2 separate regions of the Homo sapiens genome follow, and region 2 is linked to region 1. The links come from fine-mapping of genetic effects on gene expression. Tissue or cell type: blood mononuclear cells. Region 1 holds a variant in brackets; the other region holds the start of a gene. All regions are shown on one strand. Distances are from middle to middle.

Evidence for each region. PIP is the estimated chance that this variant, and not a neighbour inherited with it, causes the effect.
Region 2: CHAMP1 starts here. The variant in region 1 is fine-mapped to the expression of CHAMP1 in blood mononuclear cells (TOPMed, PIP 0.98).

Annotation. Positions count from the first base shown.
Region 1 is chr13:114,201,016-114,203,515 of GRCh38, forward strand. The region is part of intron 3 of CFAP97D2 (CFAP97 domain containing 2); the gene reads left to right. Among named protein-coding and RNA genes, the nearest start is that of CFAP97D2, 23 kb to the left of the region's middle. The variant G/A (reference allele first, on the strand shown) is at 1,562.
Region 2 is chr13:114,312,911-114,315,659 of GRCh38, forward strand. It overlaps CHAMP1 (chromosome alignment maintaining phosphoprotein 1), which reads left to right and starts at 1,593. Exons shown (of 3, transcript NM_032436.4): 1 at 1,593-1,733. RefSeq lists silencers at 184-478, 1,251-1,930.

The DNA.
Region 1 (2,500 bases):
ATACTGGTACTGCTCTTTCATAACCTCACTTTTCACCCAGAAGTGGAGTTCTGCCCTCTGTGAAAATGAATATCAGCAGGCTTTCATACTCCTTAAAATCACCTTATAAATGCTTGACTGTGAATCCTAAAAGCCTCTCTTGTCTAAGGTCAATAACCTCTGCCCCCTGCATCTTACACATCCTAGAGTAACCTCATAGTTACACCATGGCCCTTTCCCTGTAAGTGCAAGATTTTGATGGTGATTGTGATAGTTAATTCTAATGAAGGGGTTTTTGTTCCGGAAGTGCTTGAACCTTTTAAGACTTTTGGCCTGTACCTATCCCCAAGAAGCTTATAGTAGTTTCAGATTTCATAATAAATTAAAATATAATTGATCCTCAGGTACCTCGAGGTGTGTGATACAGGAAGATTGCAGGCCCAGCAGGGTGCACCACTGGGAAGGTGCTGCTCCAAGCTCAGGCGGGCCCTGCATGGTCCTGTGTGCTGGCTTTGTTCAAAGGCCCAACTGGAGCAAACCTGCCTCAGAGATGATTTACTGTGGGCTTCCAGGGCTTCAAGGGAAGCCATGGGAAAGTCAACCATTTTTCTCAAGAATGCATCAGTTTGGGGCTTGATAACTGGCTATTTCATGTCTCAGTTGACTCCATTCTTTAACAAAGGACACTTGCCGAGTTAATGCACAATGCTGGAGAGAAACAGTTCGTTTTCAGGGGAGTCTCAGCTGCTTCTGGAGCACTGCAGACCAGTTGGTTGATGGAATAAACATATCTAGCTAGCTGGTCAGCCAGTAGCACAAATCAACATGAGAGAAACTATAGAGCCAACAATTGGACTTTCACTCCTGATTTCATTTTTCATGTCTTTATTCAGATGTGATTGGCATACAGTAAACACATATTCAAAGTGTATGTGATAGGTTTGTCATATGATACACCCATGACACCAGCACCCCAGTCAAGACAGTAAACATATTCATCACTCCCCAGGTTTCCCTGAGCCTTTCGGTCCCCCTACCCACCACCCTCTGCCCATCGAAGGTTCCCTATGGGTGCCTTTGCACTTTCTGGATTTTATGTGTATAGGTTCATCAAGTATCTGCGTTTTGTCTGCCTTTCAGTTAGCATAACGTTGAGTAGTGTTCCATCGTACGGATCTATCACAATGTGTTTATCCATTCACCTGTTGATGAGCATTTGGGTGGTTTCCAGTTTTGGGCTATTACAAATAAGGCTGCAATCAGAGTTTATGTAAAAAGAAATTCAGAGATGAATACCTCTGCCCAAGACTGAAAACTCAATGACAAATGGATTTCAAGTGGGATCCACATGAGAGACCCCCAGAATGACCGCATGAGGAGCTCTCTCAACCCACTCCCCAGCAAAACTTTTGAAAATGGTTAAAACACAGTCATTTAGAGTCTCTGCTGTATGGTCCTAAGAAGAAACATATATTCAAGAAAAGCTACTGTAATTTGACAAGAACAGCAAATGTCCCTGGTATATGAGCTAAAACCTGCTGTCTCCCCACTGCTTCCAGCTCAGCAATGCAGATGCACACCA[G/A]AAGCTGCAGCCAAGTGCATGGGCTCTGCTCCCCACAGCTCCTAGTCGAAGGGCCTTCTTCCTGGAAGGGGCAGGGCCTTACTTTTCTCATCTTGTCTGCAGTTGCCTGTTGCTGAGACTAAATCCCAGGTGAGTGTGGCCCCACGCTGGAGATGCTCTTGTTCTGCCCATTTCCTGTTTGTGGAGTGGATGCTTAGCCTGCAGCCTTGGGAATGGTGATCCTAAGACTACAGGAGCCAAGATCCCCTTGGTCTGGTTCATAGGCATTGGTTCCATGCTGGGAGAGTCACGCCGAGAAGACCTGTGTGTCCCTCCAACACACACACACAGTGGAGCACAGAGCCTGGGGTGTCACTCAGAGAGAAGATCGCCATTGTTCCCACTCCGAGCTCCAGGGCTCTGAGATTTTGCCCAGAGGAAGAAGCAGACCCTCGTAACAGCTCCCATTCTCTTCCCAAAGGGATGGTTTAATTTGCAACAGAATTTAGAAAAGTGCAAGCCTCACTGGACATGAAAATAAAAGACATCGAAATTGGGAAGGAAGAAGCAAACTATTTCTATTCACAGATGATATGATCTTGCATATAGAAAATCTTAAGGAATGCACTAAAAAGCTGTAGAACTAATCCACAAGTTCAACAAGGTTGCAGAATACAAGATCAATACACAAAAATCAATTGTGTTTTTATATACTTGCAATGAGCAATCTGAAGAGGAAACTAAGAAAACAATTCCATACTCAAAAGTATCAAAAGAATAGGTACTTAGGAATAAACAAAGGAAGTACAAAATTTATACTCCAAAAACTACAAACCGTCATCCACAAAAATTGAAGATCTAAATAAATGGAAAAATATCCCACGTGTATGGATTCAGAAGTCTTGCTATATTAAGATGGCAATATACAAACTATTGCAGAATTTTGCTCCTTAGTTCAGC
Region 2 (2,749 bases), 110 kb after region 1:
TACAACTTAATGAACTATAAAAAGAAAAACTAAATCCAAAGCTGGCAAAAAGAAGGAAATAATAAAGATTAAAGCCAAGATAAATGAAATAGAAAATAGAAAACGATAGAGAAAATCAATGAAACCAAAAATTGGTTCTTTGAAAATGTCAAAGCATTATTCACAATATCTTGAATAGGGAAGCAAGCCAAGTGTCCATCAACAGGTGAGTGGATAAGCAAAATGTGGCATATCCATACAATGGGATAGTATTCAGTGTTAAAAAGGAAGGAAATTCCACAATGTGCTACAACATGGATGAACCTTGAGGATGTTCTGCTAAGTAAAATAAGTCAGTCACAAGACAAATACTGTATGATTCCACTCTTATGAGTAGTCAGACTCAGAGACACAGGAAGTAAGATGGTGACTGCCAGAAAGTAGAAGGTAGAGGGGAACCGAGAGTTAACATGTAATGCATAGTTTGTTTTTCAAGATGAAAGAGGTACAGAGATGGATGGTGGTGTTATGAATATACTTACCACCACTGAGCTGTACACGTAAAGATAGTTAAGACGGTAAATTCTATGGATTTTATTTTTATTTTTTTGAGACAGAGTCTCACTCTCTCCCCCAGGCTGGAGTGCAGTGGCGCGATCTCGCTGTAACCTCCGCCTCCCCGGTTCTATGGGATTCTCCTGCCTCAGCCTCCCTAGTAGCTGGGGTTACACGCGCCCGCCACCACGCCTGGCTAATATTGTATTTTTAGCAGAGACAAGGTTTCACCAGGTTGGACAGGCTGGTCTCGAACTCCTGACCTCAGATGATTCACCTGCCTAGGCCTCTCAAAGTGCTGGGATTACAAGCGTGAGCCACCGCGCCCGGCCATTCTATAGTTCATTTTCACCACAAAAACAAAAATGAAATTCACAACAAGCAAAACTTCAGAAGGGTACAAAGGTAGAGAGCAGTGTGAGCTAATTTTACAGTCTTTCAAAGCATACAGACTGATGGCATCAGCATTAGAGGTGCATGCATTTTAATTAGAATTGTGGTGGTAACATTCATAAAACTGAAAACAAAAAACGAAGAAGATAACTTCTGGGAATCGGGACTTTCAGTGGAGGCGGGGTGATGAGAAAAGGAATATTTACTGTCATCCAACAACTTTGTCTTGTACTTTTGTCATAGGTATTATGCCAGTAATATCCCTGAGAATGTATGGGGCAGGTCTAGCTCTTTTTTTCCTAATAAATTCATTCACACAACAATCAAAACAGCAAGAAAAGGAAGAGATATCCGCACGGCGGCGGCAGGCCGGGGCCGTTCCAAGGGCCTGGCCGGAGGCCACAGGCCAGACGCGGCGGAACCCTCCCGGAGCCGCGCCCGGGCGCGCGCGGGAAGCGGAGGCGGAGTGGGCACGTGCGGCACTTCCGGGGCGGGGCGGGCACGCAGCCCTTCCGAAGGCCCGCGCGAGCCGCTAGTTTTGCCCACGCACTTTTGGCACAGCCGCGCCACGCGATCGGCGATCTGATTGGCCCGCGCGGGAGGGCGCGCGGCGCCAAACTTGCTTCCCGTCAGCCCCCGCCCGTCCCGCGGGAGCGCGCACGCTCGCGCACCCGGATCCCGGCTCCTGCATCCAGTCGCCATTCGGGAGGCCGCTGCGCTGCAGGGCCTCGCGGAGCCGCCCGCGACCGCGAGCCGGGCCCTCCGCGCGGTCCATCGCCCACTGGACGCCGCCCGCGGCCGGACCGGTGAGGAGCGAGAGCGAGCGGGGGAGGGGCGTGGTTGGGGCCTGCATCCCCGAGCCCCGTGTCGGCCGCCGACCTGGCGGGGACGGTCCCGGGAAGCCGCGGGTCCGAGTGAAGGGGGCCTGCGCTGCCTCGCTTCCCACACGGCCCGAGGGAAGGGCCCGCCCCCACAGGCCGGGGCGGGAGTGCGTCTTTGTGCAGGGAGCGGGGAGGCCCGGTGTCAGTCGCTGCCGAGGCTGGAAACATTGCGTTTGAAACCATTGGGAAGTTGAGGGCGGCACAAGACGAAAGCCATTCTTTCTGTTTTAGTTCTAGACTGCCTCCTCTTCTGTCATTATTACTGTTTAAAAATCCGCTATACAGCCTCCAAAGTGGGAGAGGACATTTGTAAACCTGATAAAGAGTTAATGTCTAGAATACAAGAAGAGATGCAACTGACCAACAAAAAGCAACCCAGTTCAAGAATGGGCAAGGAATTTGAATAGATATTTCTCCAGAGAAGAGAGACAAATGGCCAATAAGCACGTGCAGTGATGCTCAACATCACTAACCATTAAGGAAATGCAGATGAAAACCACAATGAGATACCACCTCACACCTGTTAGGGTGGCTATTAAAAAAAAGGGAAATTATGAGTGTTGGGGATGTGGAGAAATTGAAGCTCGGGTGCATTGCTGGTGGGAAAGTAGGGTGGTGCAGCAGCTATGGAAATTGGTAGTCGTTCCTCAGTTCTAGGTTTATACCCCCAAAAATTGACAGCAGAGACTCAGATACTTGTTCACAAATGTTCATCGCAGCATTATTCAAAATCCAGATGTCTATCAACATGTGGATGAAAGGCAAGCTGTGGTATATACATATAATGAATGGACCATTGTTCATCTTTAGAAAGGAATGAAATTCTGATACATGCTGCAATATAAACGAACACATTATACAGTATAAACGAGCACATTGAACACATTATGTTGAGTGAAATAAGACACAAAAAAGACATACTGTATGATTCCCCCTCAGGC